3 separate regions of the Homo sapiens genome follow, and regions 1 and 2 are each linked to region 3. The links come from fine-mapping of genetic effects on gene expression. A gene starts in region 3. Each other region holds a variant in brackets. All regions are shown on one strand. Distances are between the middles of the regions.

What was found.
Region 1: its variant is fine-mapped to the expression of HULC in fetal neocortex (Walker 2019, PIP 0.95).
Region 2: its variant is fine-mapped to the expression of HULC in prefrontal cortex (CommonMind, PIP 0.95).

The regions. Positions count from the first base shown.
Region 1 is chr6:8,431,927-8,440,115 of GRCh38, reverse strand. It overlaps SLC35B3 (solute carrier family 35 member B3), which reads left to right and starts at 4,571. Exons shown (of 10, transcript NM_001370479.2): 1 at 4,571-4,773. LOC100506207 (a long non-coding RNA gene) reads right to left here and starts at 4,493. Exons shown (of 5, transcript NR_038980.1): 1 at 3,938-4,493; 2 at 2,085-2,176. RefSeq lists enhancers at 4,174-4,263, 4,344-4,423, 4,364-4,533, 4,734-4,793, 4,290-4,831 and 2 more. The variant G/A (reference allele first, on the strand shown) is at 4,466.
Region 2 is chr6:8,447,493-8,455,681 of GRCh38, reverse strand. All of the region lies in intron 2 of LOC100506207 (a long non-coding RNA gene), which reads right to left. Among named protein-coding and RNA genes, the nearest start is that of SLC35B3, 16 kb to the right of the region's middle. The variant A/GTGTA (reference allele first, on the strand shown) is at 3,717.
Region 3 is chr6:8,648,676-8,656,864 of GRCh38, reverse strand. HULC (hepatocellular carcinoma up-regulated long non-coding RNA) reads right to left here and starts at 4,596. Exons shown (of 2, transcript NR_004855.3): 1 at 4,475-4,596; 2 at 3,009-3,320. The region is part of intron 3 of LOC100506207 (a long non-coding RNA gene); the gene reads right to left.

The DNA.
Region 1 (8,189 bases), 220 kb after region 3:
ACTGTCATTCCCATTTCACAGATGGGGAGATTGAGACTTAGAGAATTTAAGCAATTTGCACAAAGACACTCAAAGAGCAAGGGGTGGTGCAAGGATTTAAATTTAATCTGACACTAGAACCTGAGACTTAACTATGCAAGATGATTCTTCACAGACACATGACTAAGTAACACCAATTGACACGAACTGACATTGTTGATCACTCCTTCCTCCTTTAAACATTGTCTTCACCTGGCTTTTAGAAGACTGTACATTCCTGGACCCATCCTATGTCAACAGCTGCTTCTTCTAAGTCTCCACTGCTGGTTTCTCTTTCTCGCTCCCCCAAGTCACATGACTTGATTATCTAGGACATCCTAAAATACATAAAAACACCTCCCAAAAATTGCTCCTAGGAAATGGAAGGCATTTATCCATAGGTGCCCATTCCCCATTGGTGGATCATTGCCTGGGGGTGTTAATGCCACCAAACTTCCCAAGGGCCAGGTGTGTGTGTGTGTGTGTGTGTGTGTGTGTGTGTGTGTGTGTGTCAGGAGTGACGGCATCTCAACCCTATCTGAGCACTGTTCCTGAAAAGGATACTTGCTGATGTTCACAAAACAATGTCAGTGTTCTATCAGGCCAATTTCCTCCAGTTGATACAATATATGGTAGGACCAGTGGAATTCCATGGTCGTGTGTCATTGTCACACCTCTTTTACCATAAAGTGTGTCCTTTAGTTGGAGGCAATACATCAGAAAATCATGTGTTTGGGCTGGGTGTGGTGGCTCACGCTTGTAATTGCACCACTTTAGGAGGCTGAGGTGGGCAGATCACTTGAGGTCAGGAGTTCACAACCAGCCTGGCCAACATGGTGAAACCGTGTCTCTACCAAAAATACAAAAAAATTAGCCAGGTGTAGTGGCAGGCACCTGTAATCCCAGCTACTGGGGAGGCTGAGGCAGGAGAATGGCTTGAACCTGGGAGGCAGAGGTTGTGCCACTGCATTCCAGCCTGGGCAACAGAGTGAGACTCTGTGTCAAAGAAGGAAGAAAGGAAGGAAGGAAGGGAGGGAGGGAGGGAGGGAAAGAGAGAAAGAAAGAGGAAGGAAGGAAGGGAGGGAGGGAGGGAGGAGATGGAGGGAAGGAAGGGAAAGAAAGAAAAAAGAAAGGAAGGAAGAAAAAAGAAAAGAAAGAAGGAAAAGAGAGAGAGAAAGGAAAGAGAGAAAGAAAGAAAGAAAAAGGAAGGAAGAGAAAGAAAGAAAAAGAAAAAGGAAGGAAGGAAGAGAAAGAGAAAGAAAGAAAAAGAAAAAGGAAGGAAGGAAGAAAGAAAAAGAAAGAAAAAAAGAAGGAAAGAAAGAAAGAAAGAAAGAAAGAAAGAAAGAAAGAAAGAAAGAAAGAAAAAAGAAAGAAAGAAAGGAAGGAAGGAAGGAAGGAAGGAAGTCAATCAATCATGTGTTTGTAACTCTGTTATATAATGGTACTGGCAGAGGCACCATGAACAAGACCAGTCATATCAAGGGAAGTGTCAGTTCCGTAAGTACAAACCACGGCTCTCTCCAGGAAGGAAGGACTTTTGTGTAATTGCTCTCCTTATGGAATTTACCATCAATCTTTGCTGCTGATGGGCTGGACATCCAAAGAGGCAGTAGTCATATCGGCTTTAGTAAGAAAGAGCCTTAATTGTTGGGCCATGCACATGTCCTCCCCTTAATATCACTAAGAAAGTCCTTGTTGTCATCTGACTGCAAAGTAACCCACTTCCAGAGTTCTGAGGAGCTGCATTCTAGACTTTCTTCTTACATCAAATTTCTTAGCTTGGTTTCCCTCAAAACCTGAGACAACTACTTATGTGGGGACAGGTAATTTGGGATGTGATCCTAGTGAGAAACAATGAGAGAATGGAAGGGAGAATATAGACATAATACAAGAATGTGTTATTGAAGTTGCTGTTGTGAGAAACCAGAACCCAATTTCACTGGGACTTTTTGAAAAACACACAGAATGGCCTACAAAACTATCTTGCTCAAGTGTAAGAAGCAAGAGCATTTATCCATCAGTGACTGTCACCCCTTGGTTGAAGGGCCCCAGATGTGTTGACTTACCAGCACTTCAAAGCTGTGCAGGACAGGAGCTGAGAGAGCTACTGCTGGAATGTGTGAAGTCCGAAGAACCTCAGGGAAGAAAGCAAAGAGGCCTGGTAAATGTGGGAGAGGAGAAGCTGTCAGGGAGAAGAATGTGTAAGATTGCATGAAACTGCCCCCCACAACCAAGTCAGAAATGAGAGGTGATGCTCAGAAGATGTGAATCAAGACACCAAAGGTTTCTGATACTACAGAATTATTAATTTCTTAAAAATTTAAAACCAATTCATAGGACCAGGCGCAGTGGCTCACGCTTATAATCCTAGCACTTTGGGAGGCTGAGGTGGGTGGATCACTTGGGGTCAGGAGTTCGAGACCAGCCTGGTCAATAAGGTGAAACCCCATCTCTACTAAAAATACAAAAATTAGCCGGGCATGGTGACAGGCGCCTATAATCCCAGCTACTCGGGAGGCTGAGACAGGAGAATGGCTTGAACCCAGGAGGCAGAGGTTGCAGTGAGCTGAGATGTGCCACTGCACTCCAGCCTGAGCGACAGAGTGAGCCTCTGCCTCAATCAGTCAATCAGTCAATAAAAAACAATTCATAGCTGCAAGTCTTTAATTTTGTTTACCACGTGGTTATCACAGGAGTAAATGGGAAGTATTGTAAGAGAGTCGATATTTATTAAACACCTACTCTATAATAAGTACTACTCCAGATAGTCTCTCCTACATTTCACATTTGACATGTAAAAATATTTCACTGACATGGTAGTCAGAGAAGAGCCAGGTGACATTTGAGCAGTGACTGGAAAAAAATGAGGAAGCAAGCTCTGTGGACATCTGAGAGGGCAGTGTTCCATGCAGAAGGAACAACAGCTACAAAGCACTGATGCTTGCTGTGCTTGGGGGCAATTAGAAAAGCTCTGAAGTGTAGCTTGGATGTGATCCATCAAGAATAAGTTCAGTCTTAAAAGTCAGGGTAAGAATTTTGAACTTTAATCTGAGTAAAATGGTAAACCGCTAAAAGGTTCTGCACAGAGGAGTGGCATATTCAGGTTCTAATGGGATCACTCCAGCTGCTGAATGCAACTATGTAGAGAAATAAAGGGAATGCAGAAAGCTATGCTCACGGCTACTGCAATTGTCCAGGCATGAGCAGATGGTACCTTGTAACACCTCTTGTACCTTAAGTTGTTTTATACTGCCATTTACTTTCTCATGGAAACCCCTAATTTCTTCAGGACAGGGAGCTCATACGCATAGTTTACGATATGAGCTATACATATGCCCATTTAATAAATACTTGATAAATAACCACCATATAAATGGCTAACAGTAGTACTAAATTCACATTATACAGTGACGATATGGCATCACTGAAAGGTTTTGTCATTTACTATCTCTTTAGGAAATTTAAGTTCTCTAAGCCTTAATTCCAACATTCCTAAGTGTTGCTAACACCAGCCTAACAACGTTGGCAAGTATTAAACGAAAATGTCTACCCAGACCTTTTTTTCTCACCACCAAAGTAGGTGCCTTGCTTTCTTACAAACCCTCGATCCCAATACAAGACACAAATGCTACCCTTTCTGAAGAGTGCCTGTAAAATTTTAAAAGTTGTCCATAACTGACTGGATTCTAACATACATATTAATCCAATTCATCCCTTTCTGGTATTCAAGGCATGCTTTCAAAAATTGTCCATCTTCGTTACAGTAATATTTTCCTTAATTATTCTCTGAAAACAGCTCATCCCCAAACCGTCTTGGTTTTTACGTTATTACATCTCAGTGGTGATGGATGAGGCCCTAAACGCGGGGAAAACCTTTTACAAAAGTTTTGATGGCTGGTCCTCAAGCTTTGAGATTTACCTTCCAAGAATTAAGCAGCACTATCGAAACAATGCTGGCAACATTTTTATGAGGTTGCAAGGACCACGGTTGCTGCAGCTACAGGATGAGTTATAACGTCAGAAGCAACCCAAGCGTTACTTCAGGCCCATCTTCACCGGAGAAGCCCGTATGAATCAGGCAAAAACATAAAAACAGGTTCTGTGACTTTGCCGTATCTCATTTAGATCAAGTAGCACGCAGAAGGAAGACAAGGATTTTAAAATCTGGCTCCAACATTCTCCACTTGGTCGCGTTCTCAAATCTCAGCCCAGGGCCGCTGACGTAAAGTCGCCTCTCTCGTGGGCACCACGGGCTCGAGGGTAGCCGGCAGCTGAAACCCGAGGGGCTTCAGAGGCTTGGAGGCCAGGAGCAGGCAGAGCGCCGATGGGATAATGAGATTCTCCAGCAGATCGGCGCTCACCGACCTACTCCATTTCAGTGGGTAGAGGTAAAGGCTGAAAGGCGACCCTCGCACCGCCCGGCCCACCTAGGCAGTGCCGGCCTAGC[G/A]TCTCTACCCCATAGAGCATGCGCGGGAGGTAACGGCCCGCCCGCCACCGGCCACACAGGCCTGTCGGGAGGCGGGGCCACGCGTCTGCGCACGCGCGCAGGGACACATAGGCGGAAGTGGCCTGCGGGCGCCGGAGTTGAGAGTGCTTTCCGGGGAGGCGACCGCCGCGGTGGAAAGTGCAGGAGTGGGCGAGGAGGAGGAGGAAGAGGAGGTGATGGCGACGGACCAGGGGAGGGGGAGATGCTCCGTCTAGCTCAGACGCCACGCAGGCTGCCGTCACCCTTCCGGGTGACATACCGGCCTTGGGGTACGCGTGCCTTCGGGGCCTTTCCTGTGTTTGGGACCCAGATCTCCTCTCCTCCAGAAAACCTTGACACTGCCCATCTTCCTCATCCAGAAGGAGCGTTCGAGGAATGGATGAGGTCGGGATGGAAGAAACGGGTGATTCCCTTTTTTGAAAGAGCGGAAACCGGCCGGGCGGTTTCCAGGGAGGAGCATCTGTTCCTCCTCGCCCGTTTTTCGCCCTCGGGCTGGCGAGAACTCCCTCAGGTCCCAATCCGTGGACTCGCAGGGGTGAGGTGACCTCAAGGGGTCTTTTACGCTGTTCTCGGGGTCTCTGGAGAACTGTCAGTCACCTGGATACCTCTAGACTGTATTTACAGTTAACTGTTTCCTCGTTCCGTGTTTATTAAATAGGGGCACTCCAAGGTACTCTTTTCTCCATTTGGCTTGCAGTAGAATGTGATTGTTCTGGCTGGGCTATTAAGTTTATGGCATAAACTTCCACTAGAAGTTCTGCAAGTTTCCTCCAGTCTTTGCAACTGAATTATCTCTCCCGTCTTTTTATTATTTAAGGAATATTGAAAGTAAAAGATGGAATGATTTGGTGCGCTAACAAAATCTTAAGTGTTGAGTATCTGCATTTTTTCTACATTAGGATATCAGAAGCCTAGAATTGTTTTTTGATTAAACGTTTTTCTAAGTGAATTGAGATAGTTTGGAACTTGGAAGAGAGGCAGCATTTCAAAATAATTTAGACAGCGTTATTTTTACTTAATTACTTAATATATAAAGTCCTAGTGTTAACTTTTTCTCTTGGAAAAAAAAAAGAATAGTCTTCAAACATTAGCACAGGGTTTCTCCACCTTTGTGTAATGATGTGTGTACAAAGAAATGAGATGGAACTTTGTTTTTTCTGTTTTATAATCGTACACCATAGGCCATGATTGATTCCGGAGCGCAGTTAATCAAGGCATAATGGCATGGTAAGATTCTTTTATTTGTAACGTTGAGTGTGGCAAAGTATAGTTAAAATCACGTTTTTTCAGGTTAATGACACCGTAATGACTTTTTTTTCATATTCTACCTTTTTTTGGTGTGGGACTTTTGTCCTTCAGGTCGGAAAACTCAAAAATAAACTGAAATAATTGTGACTTCAATAGGTCATTGTAACTCAACATTATCACTAATTTTAATTTTTAAATATACATTGTATGCCGGAAATGCTACCTTTTTATTCCATTTTAGCAGTTGAAGTTGAATATCTGTGTTGAATTTAGGAAGAGGCCTCAGGCAATTATACACACCTGTGATTTTTAAAATATATATATATATATTTTAGTTTCACTGATTACTGTGAGCTTCAAAAGCAAAGCACAATGTTGATCATTTAGTCTGAAAACTAATTTTAATTCCATGCTTCATTTTTGCTCCTTGCATCACAAGGAGTTTGGCCCATTTTTTTTTTTAGATGATGGTTAGTATCAGTCATTAATGTTTGAAGTGGAAGGGATATGGCAGACATTCCCCAATGATCACAGTTATTAGGTATCAGAGGTCTTTATCAGTCACACTTTCTCACCAGTGATGTTCTTATTAATAAAACAGCATTCTAAATGCAAGGCTTTGGTGGGCAAGTTTTATGAGACTGATGCCTCAGGCAGAGGAAACAAATTTATTTTCATGTTCATTTCAAATGTTTTGTGGGGAGTTTCAGTAGCAATGTCGGTATTTTGGCATACATGTAGAAAAGACAGTGCTAGAGAGATTTCATTCTGCACATATGGCCTAGATCTGCAGCACATAAAGTTGCCAAGAAGTGTATTAGAAGTGGTAAAGTGTTGGAAAGGAGCTGAATAACGTTGATTAAATAAATGGTGCTTGCTAAACTGTGGTAGAGTCCTTCATTTAATCTTACATTTTTGTTATGTGCCAGAACATCATAGGAAGATATCTCTTGCCTTAAGGATTTCATAGGCTTTTAGGAGAAACAAGTATAAAAACGAAAAAGCTATACCATTATCATTTAGGAATTTGAAAAATATGTATAATATGATTGAGTCCAGGACATCAACTCGTTTTTAACTTCGAGGCCTTATTCATGGATGCAGCATGATCAGACTTCACGTTGAGCCATGTGACAGATGGGTCAGAAAGGGAAGAATTGATTATAAACAGTCTCGTAATCTAGGCAAGAGAAAATGGCTGCCTGATGGAGTAGGGTCCGAAACAGATATTAGATATAGTTATAGAGGTAGAGTTAACAGGAATCTTGGCAAAATATAGAATGTGAGGAAAAGGAAAGATTCTTAAGATGACTCCCAGATTTTTAGCTTGTGTTTCATACTAGGTACTGTTAAGTGAGATTGGGAATATAGGAACAAACAGTAGATTTGTTTTGAGGGGAAAATAATCAGCTTTGGCCATTTTAAATATGAAGTGCCAGCAGAGCTTATGAGTAGAGGTATCAAAGAAGCATTTAGACGTAGAGCTCTGGATCTCAGGAGAGAAGGCAGCGTTGGAAATTCAGGTCTGTATTTCCAGCTGCACATCAAAGGGGTGAGTCAGCTTGAGCACACCATATCACCCTAGCAATATTTCTAAAAAGTTGAAGGATGACAGCTAACACACTTATGGACTGTCATATGCCAGGCAATTTTACATTTATTTCATATAGTCCTAACCAAAATCCTGTGATAGGCACATTTTTAACTCCTCCCACTTTTGAAGGTGCAGAACCTAAAGCTCAGAAAAGTTAAACGATTTGCCCAAGGCTCCTCAGCTAATAAGTAGTAAAGCCAGATCTTGAACTCATATCTGTCAAAATTCCAAAGCATGGGGAAAGCATTATGCTATACTGCTTTCTTATACTATTACCTATAATTGTATTGAGTCATTACAATATGCTTGGCAGTTTACTAAATTACAAACATCTCAGAAGAAGGTGACTTTGGGAAAGCGTGACCTTCTGGAGAAATGTTTTGATGCCAATAAAAGCAGGAAAGAAAGATATTTTCTAGAAGTTTTATTTATTCTGTATGTATGTGTAAATATGTAAGCATTATTTGTAAATTTTCCCCACTCTTTTTCTATAAGATTTTCAGTTTTGCTCATAAAGTTTGCCAGTACCACCATCCATTTCAAAAATCGTATCCAAGCAGAAGGTGAGTGATTGCAAGCTGAAGTTTGAGGGTATCAAGAGGAAGGATCAGTTTATTTGGTTCATCTGAATATCAGGTCAGAGTATATGCCAGGTACCAAGGACACAGAGACAAATAAGATTTGAATCTTGCCTTTCAAGTTCTCTTTTCTAATAACTGGGGGGATTAGTGATGGTGTCACAAAGGAGGGGATATTAAAGCTGAACTTCCAAACCTGACCTTGAGAAAGAAGACCTCAGGCTGAAAGGACATCATGAACAGAAGGCAGCGGTGTTTTAAAGTC
Region 2 (8,189 bases), 200 kb after region 3:
AAGAAATTATATATTCTATACCTCAGTTTAGTTCTAGCTATGCCTTCCAAAGGCACATAAGTCTAATTCCTTTTTATCTAATAGACATTAAATTACTTGAGGACAATAATTGCATGCTCATTTCTTTCAATGATTCTTCATTACATTATAGTTTCTGGATTCTAGAATAACATAGTCATTCTGTTCTTAATAGAAATTTGGGTTTGGAAGCCTAAAGTTTAAACTTATACCATGCCTACAAACACTTGGCCTTTGCTTCCCTTCCCCACAATCAATTTGAAAGGAAAAGTTGATTATACTGAATATGTCATGACTAAATGCATGATGATTAAATAGACCAAAAAATATACAGATATAAATGTATGTGAATAAAATATAAATGTAAGAATAACAGCTACAAATACAAATATATATGAATAGACCACCAAAAAGTTGTATATTTTATACAGCCTAAGCCCCTGTTTTGGCTGAATCTAGTTTTTTCAACTATAAAATCTAAGAAATCTCTATTATACATCATTAGATTTAAAAAGGCAGATGCAGAAAATCATGTATTATGTTACTATTTTAAGTTTTTTAAAAGAAAATATATGTTTCTGTGTGGATGCAATTACTATGGATATAATATTGCTGGAAATATATTAAGATACTGGTAACAAAATTAGTTGCCTGAGAAGAGGGGAAGTTGGTGAATGAATAAGGCCAAGGGTGTGTAATCAACTTTACAGAAGCTTTTGCAACTTTTGAATTCTTAATTGTGTGGATATATTTCATAATCACAAGTAACATTAAAACTTAAATAAGACAATAAATAAAAATATACAGTAATTAAACAAAGAATCACACAAATGCCAGAATAAAACATGTCTGGTGCATTTTCTCTCACCAGTAGTATGATGCATGGCCTATTAATTAAGCACATGGGAAAATGAAATAATCCAAGTATTGAATTCAGTCCCCAAATTGCTGTCTTCCAAGGTTCACATCCAGACCAAGATTCATCCTTATATATACACAGACATGGAGGATGTAAAGTAATCCTCGTGTTCAAGTTTCAAAATTACAGTTCTATATTAAATATAATTATTTTTTAATGTTCATGCCTTTAAATATTTCATCACATATTGGATTGTGCATGTACATCTTGGTTGGAAGTTTCAAACAATTTAAAATGATGATATCATTGCTCATTTTAGCAATGTCAGTAACTAACATGATCAATGGTTTGATAAGATTGATAATCAGAAATATATTTTTAAAGGTATAAGAAAATTACCTTCAAATTGTAGCGTTTGTTTCATAAAGCCATGAACAAATACACTTTCTTCCATTGTTGAGATTCAGAATGTGACTGAATCATTTTTCAGTAAGTCAAAAACTAAGGGAATAACACACAGATGTGCATTGCAAGCACAGTCATGTTAGGAATTTGTAACCTAGCATAATCCAATGACAGGTTTAGAAGTAATTCTTTCAACTAAATATATGACAGACCAATTGTATCAAATAACTGCCCCTACTAAATATCAAGTTATAAGCAGAAATCATCAAGTCGTTAAAGATACTCTATTCTAGCTCTCATATACAAATCTGTTCATTTAGCATATATTCACTGACTGCCCTCTATATGGCAAGACAGTGAAAACAAACAGAAAACATGGTCACTGCCTTCAAAGAGTTCCTATCCCAGTAAAGGAGGGAGAGAGAAAAATGTACCAACACTGCAAAACACCAAAATTACTTCTCTAATAGAAGCAAACAGACGTGAGTACAAAAATTTTGTCGTGGCCCAAGAAAGGGAACTGTTAATCTACTTGGCAAAGGGGAATGGGGAGGGATCTTTAGGAAGATGCTACCTCTCACAGTAATAAAGCTTGACAGTGGCAGAGCCTTCATTCCAATTTAGATCTCTGGATTTCCAGGTAGTATTCATTTTGCTACACTGTTCCCTAACAAACTGATCAAAGATCACTGATACTATTAGCTACAGCACACACGCATGTGAGTGAGACTTAATTTAAGCAGTGTTTTAAGTAGTGTCTTGCTAACAATTACCCACTACACAGAATGAAGACCTTTTCAACAACTCAAACTTTATACCTAAAGCACTTAACACTCATACACATCCATACTGTGATATGCATATGTGTGTGTACATATAGTTTCACACAGAACTTAACAGAGATCAATAGCTAGTGATAAGTATTATTTCAAAGCTAGAGTCCAATTCTGTTTATTTACAATCACTTTGCTGCTGAAAGCTTATTAACTAACCAGCTGTTAGACTGCGCTGCCCCAAAGCCATTATCCCAGCAGGATACTATACTTGGATTGGAACCAAAGATGAATCGTTTCATTATCATCTTCTTTCTTATTAACAAAAAACATTTCAGAGGGATTACCTGGCTTAATTGGCTAATTCAATACATAACTAACTTGGTTACTTAGATTATCCAACTATACTACCCTCATTAACTGTATGCAAATAAAGCAATTAAAACCTCTGATGCTATGCGTGACAGGTAAGAAGTAAGTACTAGAGCACACCAAATGTCAATTCCCATCAGGTGGCAAAAGACTAAGTTTGGCACTACAGTGGATAACTCTTACTCTTCCACACAACTGAAAATACTGTAGTAATTTAAAGCTTCAAATCGGCTTTAAAGAAAGAATGGCACAGTATTCAGGGTCAGAGATAATAGCAATAATAATAGTTAAAGATCAGTGGACAGTGCTACCCAATCTAAAATAAGAAGATGCAGCTTGTGCCCAAGTCTTGGTATTCTCAAAGCTCCATCAAGCTCCTTTAACAGGGTGTGGTGGCTCCCACCTGTAATCCCAGCACTTTGGGAGGCTGAGGAGGGTGGATCATTTGAGGTCAAGAGTTTGAGAGCAGCCTGGCCAACATGGTGAAACCTCATCTCTACTAAAAATACAAAAATTAGCCAGGCATGGTGGCACATGCCTGTAGTCTCAGCCACTCAGGAGGCTGAGGCAGGAGAATCCCTTAAGCCCAGGAGGTGGAGGTTGCAGTGAGTCGACATCGTGCCACTGCATGCCAGCCTGGGCGACAGAGTGAGATCAGTCTCAAAAAAAAGAAAAAAAAAAAAGAATGGCCTTTAAGATAACATGAAAATTTTTGTTAAAGTGAAGCATCTATCCTCCCAGAATCAGGTATTCTTCACAGAGGTTATATTCAGCAGCATGCTCTTAGAAATAGAGCTTGTGTCTAACGTTTAAGTGGTGCCAGCCAGGCTCATTCCCCAGTCCCTTAGCTATTTATGCTGCCACACGTGTATCTAAAACTTCTCCTATTATGTCACAAGCCTGGAAAATACACTGTTATTATTCCATTATTTTTATCAACTTAAGACCACACAAGTTTTTTTAAAGGGTAAAAAATAACACCATCTTCTTTCTACATCATGACACGCTAAGATGGAAGAAACAAAAATGCTATTATTTTTCCTCAAGCTATGCTGCTCCTGACCGCCTTTTATTCCTCCCTGATGAATCCAATAGGCTATTGTTATAAGAAGACATCTAAAGTAATATTTCTTTTCCATATGAGTTATATAATCCTAAATGTCCAAACGAATGAAAGCTGGCCATTCTATTTCTAAAAGAAGTTAGATTACTGTTAAGACCTAAATCACATCAAAATAATCACACAGAGTACAAATAGAAAAACAGTATACGTGTGTGTGTGTGTGTGT[A/GTGTA]TGTGCATACACACACACATATATATATATATACATACACACAAAAGAGCTTATTTTATGAAAGACTATTGTGATGAAAGCAAACTAAAGGCAACTGAACCATGGTCACAAATTATTTTGTTGTGATGAAAATTGATTCAAAGAACTTCAGAGGTGGGGAAAGGAGTTGGTAAAAGGATTATTGAGAAAAGAGACAAGACTGTTTAAACTCAATAGTCATATTAGCAATTTAAGAACTTGATTATACCTTTGAAATGAACAATAACTCAGTAACAACTCCAAAAGAAAGACAGTATATTTTTATGATACGGGATAATCATATTGGCAATTCAAAGATGTAATAAACATGACTCAAAGAAGAAACAATTCATAATAAACATAAGCTGAGTACAAATTTCTTATAAGACAAAAGTTTTTTTAAAAAACTAATTCAAAAAGCCATGAAAAACCTTCATCACATCAAACCTCATTCTCAGAAAATACAAAGAAAATTCTTGTATTTTCCTCTTTCTCTGTACAGAAATAACAAGAATCTTAGCACGCATAATAATACAATAAAGTAAACTAGGATTGCTAAGTCATTAGTAACATAAGTGACTCATGAAAAAGTGAACTAATATTCATCTAGAGTTACGCATTTATCATTATGGTTTTTTGGATTGCTTTTCTGGTCATTGATTATTGTCTTTCTGTTTAAGAACTTTAGCCTTAAAGCTTAAAGAAGTAATTATGTCTTTAAATATTACATTCAAATATCTTAAAAGATTAAAAGAAATAGCTGCAACATATACCTCTTTGGACTTCATTTAATTGTATTTATTCAACTATAGAAACTTTTCTTCTGGCGTACAGAGGACACAGAAATAATTATTTCCACCTATCTTTCTGTCATGAATTAGTCCAGTATTAGCTATAAACAGAAATTGAACAAATTCTTTACAAGTTCTTTGACTCTTTGTTTCTTTAAAATGCAAAAATACAATATATTTTGAAAGCAGTTTTTATATCGATTATATAAATATTATTTCATATATTTATTTATATGTTATGTATATTTAATGTAGGTATATGTTATGCTATTAATTTCTTTGCAAAAACAATAGAATGCATTTCACATGTTGATTTTAGATTTTTGCATACTTTCTAGTATTAAATGTAGCAAACTGCCTTTAACTGCAATTACAACTCACCAAAAATTAGTATGATTTCCACATATCAGACTAATATTATAATAAAATATTTTAATTTATTGATTACTAAGTCAATTTTTAAAAGATCTAAAATAAAAAATTTAACATATGTTATAGCCAAATGAAAGCTTTGAAAACAACTATAAATTTTACTTTATTCAATTATATAAATGAATTGAAACTTGCATTTCCATAATAGCATTTGAGATGAAATTTGTTGATAAAGATTTATTTTCTTTTAATACTTCTTCCTTTCAAATAGGTACAAGACTGATTTGTCTAACCCTGGGTTCTGCTAAGTAGCAATTGTTTTATTCCAAAGATGCAGAGTGGCTATCTAACCTCTGCTGCAATATTGTCTCCTAGGACACCAACATGAAGCTTCTAGAATTTATGATACATTGTCCTGGATCAACCACTATAACAAAAATTGAAAGTTATTTATATATCTGGAAGACCATATCTATTGAATTCCTCTGGAAATATCAATCACTTTTAGACAGGAATTTACATTTCACTTGTTTTAAAATAATGTACTTCCAGTTGGTAAATGGTCACAATCTGTGTCCAGAATATAGATGAACAACAACAAAACTCCAAAAGAGTAATTTTCATCTTTAGTGTGTCCCGAGAAGCAGATTTCTCATTGGAAACAATGCAAGCAAGGAGAGTGCAGCAACATCACAAAAGTATTGAAAGAAAAACATCCATCATCCTAGAAGTTAAAATCCAGTGAAAACAACTTTCAAAAACAAAGATGAACTAAAGACCTCAAAATATATGTGAAAATTAACTCAAAATGGATCACAGACCTAGATGTAGAACCTAAAACTGAAAACCTCTAAAGTAAAATAGGAAATATCTTTGTGACACTGAGGCAAAGATACATTATTAGGTTTCTGCAAAAGTAATTGCAGTTTTTCCCATGGAAACTAATGGCCAAAACCACAATTACTTTTGCCCCAACCTAATAGCTATGACACAAAAAGCACAATCCATCAAAAATAAATTAATTAATATTATACACAACAAAATTAAGAACTTCTCTTCAAAAGAAATCATGAAAAGAATGATAAAACAAGCATCAGCATGGGGTAAAATATTTGCAAGCTGCATTTCTCATAAAATGGCTTGGATCTAGAATATATAAAGAATTCTCAAAATGTGATAATAAGAAAAGCTTACTATGGGAGGTTACAAATATGTTAATTTGCATGACTGTAGTAATCATTTCACTATGTAAATGTATATGAAAACATTAGGTTTTACATCCTAACTATAGAAAATTTTTAAAAAGAAATAAAACAGTTGAAAAAATTTTAAAGGTTAAAAAAAATTTTTTTTAATGGGCAAAAAATGTGAATAAATGCCTCACCAAAGAAGATCTACAGAACTCAATAAAGCATATGAAAAGACGCTCAATAAGTCAATAAGCATATGAGAAGTATTTAATATTATTAGACATTATAGAATTGCAAATTAAAACCACAGTGTGATACTACTAAGCCTTTTAAAATGGCTAAAATGAAAAAGACTGGACCAGTCTTCTGGCTAGGATGGGAAGTGAACAGAATTCTCATCTACTGCTGTTGGGAATGTAAAATGGTATAAGCATTTTGGAAAACAGTTTAGCAGTTTCTTTTTCTTTTCTTTTTTTTTTTTTGAGACGAAGTCTCGCTCTTGTCCGGCAGGTTGGAGTGCAATGGCATGATCTCGGCTCACTGCAACCTCTGCTACCTGGGTTCAAGCGATTCTCCTGCCTCAGCCTCCCTAGTAGCTGGGATTACAGGCACCTGCCACCATGCCCGGCTAATTTTGGTATTTTTAGTACAGACGGGTTTTCACCACGTTGGCCAGGCTGGTCTCGAACTCCTGACCTCAGGTGATCCACCCACCTCGGCCTCCCAAAGTGGTGGGATTACAGGCGTGAGTCACCGTGCCTGGCCAGCAGTTTCTTAAAAAGTTAAATACACAGCTATGTGACAAAACTAGTCCACTTCTAGGTATTAATATTTACCCAAGAGAAATGGCAACATAGGTCCACACAAACACTTGTAACATGAATGCTCAACAGCATCCTGACAAGTAACAGCCAAAACCTGGAAATGGCCTAAATTTTCATTAACAGTGAAATGATAAATAATATTTCATGAAATGGAATTTTACTTCAGCAATAACAATAAATGCTTTATTGATGAATGCAAAAACGTGAATGACTCTTGAAATAATCTGAGTTTAAAATGTGATATCATATGGCAAAAGGGATTTTTCCAACATCATTAAGGTTACTAATCAGTTGATCTGACTTAATCAAAAGAGAGATTATCCTTTTAGACATAACTTAATCTCATGAGCCCTTTAGATTTGGGTCTAGCAGTCAGAGACAGAGAAAATCAGGGTTTTGAAACACAAGAAGGTTTTGACACACCTGACTTTGTACATGGAGTGAACCAGTTGGCTAAGAATCACAGGCAGCCTCCAGAAGCGGAGAGAGGCCCGTCAGCTGACAGCCAGCAAGGAAACAGGGACTTCAGTCCAATAAGTGCAAAGAATTGGATTTGGCTAACAACCTGAATGAGCTTGAAGAAAGACTTTCAGCTCTAGATAAGACGACAGTCCTAATCAACACCTTGATTCTGGTTTTATGGGACCCAGAGCAGAGAATCCAGTCAACCCATACCCAGACTTCTCATCTACAAAACTATGAGCTCATAAATAGGTGTTGTTTTAAGCTGCTAAGTTTGCAGTAACTTGTTTTGCACTAAAGGAAACTAATACACATGGTAAAACTATGGTAAAAGAAATATTGTAAAAATATCAATACCTACCCAGCAGCAATCTATAGAATGGAAGAAAGTGAAAAGTAGTGGATGCTGTAGGAGTCTCACTTGTCTTGGCACTCACCATGCCAGTACATGACCATAGTAGTGAGAAAAAGAAAAGCAGCTCCTGATAGCTGGGAGATTGACTGGTACTATCCAATAAGACACAGTGTCCTTCTGTTGATCATAACCAGTTTCACAGAACACCAATAGTGGACAAGTCTATTCCATGACAATGACGGATCAAAATGAACACAAGACCACTTGGTGATCATGTCTGAACTCAGACAAAAACAAGAACATTGTCTAAACTCCCAAAATGAACAAACGTCTCTCTATCTGGGCTAATATAAGTGAGAATTACTTCTTTACCAATTATAGCTGTAGCTTGCTCTTGTTCTTCTCTCCTTCAAGCTAAGAATTCTGGGCCGGGAGCAGTGGCTCAAGCCTGTAATCCCAGC
Region 3 (8,189 bases):
AAATGGGGACAGTGAATTTTGTTCATAGGCTCCTAAAAGCATTTGGAATGTAATCAAACTTAAAGAAATACTTGTTGAGTGAATAAATCAGCTAATTAATCATTGTTTTGTTAAGACAAATATGAAATTGAGTAGAGGGCAATTTTACATTGATCTAGTTTATAATCAATAGGAAATTTATAACAGTATTCAACTTTTATGCCCTGAATATTCTCAAAATGTCTTAATTTCAAAATGTCAAATGATGGAAATACAGTCTTAGGTGTGCTCAAGTAACATTAAGAAATTGTATGGCTAAAAATATGGAAGCAACCTAGGTGGCCACTGATGGATGAATGAAGAAAATATGGTACACATGTAATAATATTCAGCCTTAAAAACATGAAGGAAATCTATCATTTGCAACAACATGGATACACTTTGAGGATATTATGCTAAGTGAAATAAGTTGGTCACAGAAAGGCAAATACTGCATGGTTTCACTAATGTGAGGTACCTAGAGGAATCAGACTCATAAAAGCAGAAAGTAAGATAGTGGTTATCAGCAGTAGGAGAGTTACGAAGTTGGGGAGATGTTGGTCAAAGGACACAAAGTTTTATTTAGACAGGAAGAAAAAGTTCAAAAGTTCTATTGTGCAATATGGCAAGTAGAGTTAATAACAATGTATTGTTTACTTCCAATTGCTGGGAGTAGATTTTAAGTGTACACACACACACAGATACATATGTGAGGGAATGCAAATATTAATCAGCTTCATTTAGCCATTCCACAATGCATACATATGTGAAAACATCATGTTGTATACACTAATTATATACATTTTTATTTGTCAGTTTAAAAGAATAATAATGAAAGAAATTACACAGCTAAATCAAAGGATGCACGTGTCAGAGTAACTGGAAAGACAGCACATGAATGCCACACAAGAGTCCTGTTACGTACAACCCCACTCACAATCACCTCTTTTTTCATTCTGTACACACCAGGCTCACTGCCCAGCTAATAGCCCCATTAAGCAAACCCAGGTTCTCCTATATTTCAACCTCTGTTTAGATACATTGCCTCACACTATTAATAAGTATCATCAGCCTTCCTAGCTTTGCCAATGCCTCAATTCCCTTTCCGCCTTTGTGCACATCACTCCAACAATCACTGGTCGACTTTATTGAACCTGCCTCATGGGCAGGATCCATATGGGGCAAATTTGTGAAGAGCTGCATTCCTCTGCTAAGCAGTTTGTAAGGCATTCTAGCTTAAATAGGGAAGCAGATAATTGTTTTCACCAACATACATTCCCTCGAAACCATCCCACTAAAATTAAAGCAAGGTCATTGGCAGGCTGGGGGCCAGAATAATGAGAGATTATTGACAAAGAAACTAGTTACAAAATGCTGAGAAAATCCAGGCAATACATAGAGAACTTGGAATAGCACAATCAGTAGGAATAAATTGGAGAAGTCGGGTTGGAAACACGTTTGTGATTTAACAGGATGAGGTGGCTAACAAATAAGGTATGGAGTTAAGGATGACTTCAAAGTGAATAGTTTGCAAGATTCAGGGGATCATGATGCCATTCACACATAGACAGAATCATTTTAGAAAGAAAGGACATCTTTGAGGGGAAGGTAATGGCTTTCGTTCTGGACATCCTAATTTTGATGAACCCATGGGGCATCCAAGATGAGAAATCTAGTAGGCAGTTAAGAGGAATTTGGTCTAAATAATGTAGCTAATCTGGTAACAGGCTGTTTTGACTGAGTACCAGCTATAAGCAAGAAGTAATCATTGGAACAGTAAGAAATTACTAGATTTTACGGTGCATTAGATCAAGAAGAGGGATAAATCGCTCTTTGGCACAGCTGTACATCTTAGTGCCTATTTTGGGTCCTCAATAGAAATAGATTAGGACAGATTGCACCTATGGACATGGTGCAATATTTAAAGGTAAGCCATGCTGTAAAGAAATTAATATAATGTTCAGTATCTTTAAAAATATTAGTCATAAGTTACATAAACCAAAATAGCAATGCTAACATTGTAAAAGTAAATTTAGTTAAATTATTAATGACTCAAACTTACATCTCCCCACTTCTTAAATCCCACAAGATTCCTGTTGTATGTAAGCAACACTTTCCTCAAACCAAGAGCCTTTTAGGAGCCTTCTATCATATCCATCTGGCACCAGGGTAGCAACATTATGGATCATTGAGACAGGTTGGCTAGAAAGGTAGATCACTTTTGTCAAGGAAGAAAATTTAAAGAGTCAAAGGATCATAACTCTTCTCCTCTACAGTAAAAATGGCATTGTTGATGATTTAAGAACTTTGGATGGTGCTATTCAGCCCAGATAATTATAAAGAATACCCCATTGTGGAATATTATTCCATAGGTCTGTAAATTTTCTGTCACTTTTCCTATTTCAGCTCATCTTACGCATCAAACAACTCACCCTGTCTATAAAATGGAAGATATGCCGTATAACAGTTATATCAAAAAAGATCTTTTATGTGTAATCACTTCATAAAGTGCTGTTTGAACATAAGGTATTAGTAGTTATTTTAGCCTATCACATGAATAGTGCATCCAGACTCCAAGATTTAGAGATTTAGAGTCAAGCTCCTTTTTCTTTTTTTTTTTTTTTTTTTTTTTTTTTGCCAAGCTCTTGGAAACAGTACACTGGATTCTAAAATAGAAAAACAACAGTACAGAATTATGATCATTGCTCTAGACTTACTGGATTTAATTATTGGTTCAAATAACAATGATAATAATAAAACCAACTTTAAATTCAGCACTTTTTTCTATGCATTGTCAACCCCTTTTGAATTTCATCTTTGACCCTGAAGTACAGATTTGATTCTTTCTTCAGAATGTTTACATTTATTTCACCTTCCAAATTACCTCCTTTTTCCTTGGTCTCTGAGTTTCAGAGGTACCTGATGCATAATTTATGCCCTAGAGACAAAAATATTGGCTGCCAAGATGCATAAAACTAGTGGCCCAGTTGTGAGGATGAATTAAGAATGGACATCATTTTATTTCATTTTAATTTAGTTTTGTTTAATTCTAGTTTCAGTTTTGATGATATTTTGCCATGCTTCCCAATTTTTTTCTTTGATAACAACATAATTCAGGGAGAAAGTACAAATTTGCCACAGGTTGAACACTTAATTTGTGTTCCTTAAAAAATAATGCTGTGCTTAGTTTATTGCCAGGAAACTTCTTGCTTGATGCTTTGGTCTGTTTTGTTTTTAATGTTTTAAACAAAGAATATTCCGGCCTTTACTTCAGAGTTTCTTCCAAAGATACATATGCATTTCTAGGAAGAGGAAAGAAAGAGTTGTAAGACATCTATCATCATAAAAAATTAATCACTTGACTCATCCCCTGTCCTGCTTGTTTCAGTTAGCATTTTCAGCTTCCCAAGACCATATTGTTCTACATCTGTATGTAAGAGCTCTGATGTATCTAGAATTTGTAAGCTGTCCAGCAAAAATGAAAAAGGGTCTCTCCATTCACTTTTCAATGATTAAAAAAAAGAGAGAAAAGCATCAATTTTATATAACTCTCTCTTTTACTCAAATCTTATTCTCTGCCTTGTGTTAAATTCCAGCAAGGCCCTAAACAATTGAAAAATGAACAAGTTGGTTGATCTTTAGCAAGTGAATACATTGTTCCCTAAATGGTTTCAATTACACAGGTTAGCTCTGTGGGAGGTTGCACTCACTGTGATGTTCTAAGGAGACTACATGGTTTCTGAGAAGATAAAATATTCTGTAGCACTGAAACAGGTCGAATATAATCCTAGGTAATATTCTGGTGCTGTGTTGTGGATTTGCAATAGGTCAATTCAGACAAACTGGAACTACATTTCCCAGAATTCCTTTATCCGCAGAGTTCTGGGTTGGGGGTGGAGCATAAGTGAATTTGCACAAGATTTGAAAGGTAAAAGTGAAGTAGCAGCCATACTCTTTGCATTCTATAAAGGTCCACAGGGGCGTCAGGCTGTGCTTCAGACAGCATACATGGTTGTCCCAGTGCCAGTTCAACTGGTTGGCTGGGGTAGCAGCCTAGTGCAGCTCCTCAGCTCCTTCCCACTCCCCTCCTTCAGCTTATCACACCCATGGCAGCAGCAGATTTAGCTCCATGAGGAAAAGCTCCAGCTTCTCCAGCAAATCGATTCCATAATCAAAGATGGAGGCTAACAGGTGGTAAGAGGGGCTAATGGGTCCCAGTTGGTCCTTGTGGGAACCAGCTCAGCCTCAAGAGTTCCAGATTGTTCGAACCCCTCTCTATTTCACGCCCTCTTTTCTCCCAACTTCCTGCCCCGTGGACTTAAAGCTTCAGCACCAGATAGTGAAGGAACAGCCCCACACTGACTGCTTCATGTGTCTCAGTCCACCTTCACGTGTCTCAGTCCGCTTAGGCTGCTATAAAAAATAACAAAGACTGGGTGGCTTAAACAACACTTACTGGATCACAGTTCTGGAGGTTGAAATGTCCACGATCAGAGTTCCTGCATGGTCTGGTTCTCGTGACGACTCTTCCTGGCTTGCAGATTGGGGCCTTGCTGTATCCTCACGTGGCATAAAGAGAGCTCTTGTCTCTTCATTCCCTTGTAAAGGCTCCAATTCCATCATGAGTTCCACCCCCATGACCTCATCCAAGCCCAGTTACCTCCCAAAGGCCCCACCTCCAAATACCATCACACTGGAGATTAGGGTTTCAACATATTGATTTTGTGGACTGCAAACATTCAGTGTATAGCAACCAGCTCCCACTTGTAGTGGACCTGCTTTTCTGACCCAAGCTCTAAATGCTGCACACTGAAATTGCCTTCTTCATGACTGTTCTTATGTGCTGTTTACTTCACTCTTTCCCATACCTCTATCTCTCAGAATCTGATCTAAACTTACATGAAAAACTCAAAGCCTATCTTTTGCATGAAGTCTTCCCTGATATTTATGGTAAAAATTAACCACTTTCTCCTGCATGTCCCTAAGCACTTTAGTTATATCTCTCTTTGTGCACTTAATGCATCCTGCCTTGTATGGCAGTTCTGTGTATCTCTCTCTCCCCTTGTAAATTTCTTGAGGGCAGAATGATGTCTCACTCATCTTTGTATCCCCAAAAGCAACTATCACAGTGCCCCATGCAGAACTGGAGTTCAATAAATGTCTGTTGACTTGAAGTCTGGTGCAGCTTGCTTTATCCTCTGGCACTGCTTGGGTTGTCACCATGACTGTATCTAAAGGACAACTTTACCCTTCTGGGCTCTCTGGTCTTGTTTTATCTATTTTTATGATGTGTTTATACATAGTCCCTGCTTTATGCCAGAAGCCAAGCACTTTGGTGATACATTTTCAGTCAGGTTAAATGTTTGGCATTTTTTTTCAAGTGGAAAGGCCCTCACCGGATGTATTAAGAGTTTTCTTTTGAAATCTTATCATGAAAATAAATGGGGCAAATAACTGCATACAATAAGGCACTGCATAGTTAATGTAGCAAAGTATCCTGCACACAGCAAGCTCATAGGAAACATAGGTTGAATGATGGAGGAAATAAATTGATGAATTTACTAATGAATGAAGAGCCTAACCAAGGGACAAAGCCATCAGGTATATGTATAGTACTGCCATTTTTAATGACATGATTTGAGACTCTTCCAAAGAAACATAGATAACTACCTACCTTGATGTAGTCCTACCAACAGGCAGAGGATTTCTCTCCTCCAAATTGCAGTAGTTCATCATTCTTGCTTAAAGTTTGCTATAAGCTATAGTTTATAATGAACTATAATTTATGGTGTATACAAGATAGGTCTTACCTACATTTCAAAAAATAGGGAACCACAGAACAATTCATGGAGCATAGTGTCGAAGGAAAGGAACTATTGTCAGAATACATCTAGATCTATTTTTTTTGTCTAACATCTATGAAAGAAAGGATGAATGGTAATGCATTAAATATTTTTCTAATATTGCTAAATGAGAATTTTATAAAATTCTTTCAACTCCCATCTTGTATATGAGATTCTAGAAGTTGCTATAAATTGTGCTAGAAAATGGGTACAGCTTTGTCTTGGAAGTTTTATGTTTCAAAACATTTTCCCCTCAAAGAAAGCTTTATTTCCAAGTCCTGAGGTGCCAGGTAAAAATCTATAAAGTAAAAGTAATTATCTAATATCTCACTTAGTAAATCATCAGGATAAAACTTCTTTAGGAAAAAGCTAGCTCCTTTTGTTTGTGAGGAAAAAAGAAATAAAAGAGACTCTGGGAAATTTTTCAAGTGATTTTAAAAAGCAAAACTTTTACTCTAATCATTTTCTTGTAAATAAATCTAAGAAAATAATAGTTTAGCTTAAAGTAAAAGTGTCCTGGTTCAATTTGTGTCCACTTCTATGCACAACCTATCATGTTACCTTTCACAGTGTCTTTGGTTGCACTTTACGTATCTTAAGCTTATCCTGCTCAGTATAGTTATCTTCACAAAATTGCTTTGGTAACTCAGGAACTGCAACATTTCTGTTGCCTCATTATCTAACAATGTATCCAACCAATCAAAACTCAAGAGGGTCAGAGAAGATCCTGCAAGTCATTCATCCAACAAATCTTCATTGAGCAGTAATGAAACATAGGCTCTGGTTTTCAATTTAGGACTGAGGACAGATGCACCCACATGAGTACAACACTTGTCACAGGTGCAACTATGGAACATCTCCACAGACACCAAGAGGTCAAGAAAGACAATACAGAAAGGGTGGCTTCTTTTTTTTTGAGACGGAGTCTCGCTCTGTCACCCTGGCTGGAGTGCAGTGGCATGATCTCGGCTCAGTGCAACCTTGGCCTCCCGGGTTCAAGCAATTCTTCTGCCTCAGCCTCCTGAGTAGCTGGGACTACAGACGTGCACCACCACACCCGGCTAATTTTTGTATTTTTAGTAGAGATGGGGTTTCTCTATATTGGCCAGGCTGGTCTTGAACTCCTGACCTCGTGATCAGCCCACCTCAGCCTCCCAAAGTGGTGGGATTACAGGCGTGAGCCACTGCACCAGGCCAAGGGTGATTTCTAAATTACATCTTGAAATATTATCAGTGTTCATCAGGCAGAAAAATGGTCTAGATAAGACAAAGGCATCTCATGCAAAGAAAGCAGAAGGAGCAAAGCATGAGATACGGAAGGCTTTGGTGCAATCAGAAAAACATCTGGTGTGGCCGATGCTTGTCAGGGAGAAGGAAGAAAGTAAGGGATGCATTATGGGTTGAACTGTGCCTCCCCAAAATTTACATGTTGAAGTCCTAACCCCATACCTCAAAATGTTACTGTATTTTGAAATTAGAGTCTTTAAAGAGGTAATTAAGGTAAAATGAGACTGTTAGATTGAGCAGTAATTCAACGGTACTGCTACCTTAGGAGAAGAAGAATTGGGACACAGAGAGATACCAGGGATGTGTGTGCACAGAGGAAAGGCCCAGGGAGGACAAAGAGAGAATGTGGTATTTACAAAACAAGGAGACAGGCTTCAGGAGAAACCAGCCCTACTGGCACCATGGTCTTGCACTTCCAGCCTCCAGAACTATGAGGAAATAAATTTCTATTGTTTAAGCCACCCAGTCAGTAATGTTTTATTATGGAAGCTCTAGCAAAGTAGTACAAGACAAAAGAGATGAGGGAGGCAGGGGTCTTCATGGGAGAACGTGTACGCCCTGAGAAGCTCACACATCCTGCAGGCTATGCAAATCCTTAAACAGTTAGACATAGGAAATTAGCAATACGTTAATAATATGTTATACTTCATAAAAGTATCACTCTGACAACTGTGTACAAGGTAGAAGACACCAGCTGACTACAGGAAGAAAAACTAACTGTTGAATCAAGTGGCAATGAGAGGCTAACAGAGGCAGGCATGGAGGGGAGAAGAGTTCTGATGTGTGAGATGTTTCAGAGGCACACTCAGCCAAAGCTGGACCCAGAGGTGATGTCATGTTGTACAAATGAGAACGACAACCTAGATCTGCTTCAATGCTGGGACCTACGATACAGGAACTCAATAAGCATTTATTTATCAAATGAATGAAGACAAGGCAACTACCCACTTTCATTAGATGGACATCTGAGAATAAACCATACTACTCCAAACATAATAACATCCATTCTACTACCTCATGTCAATTATGCTCTGCCATATA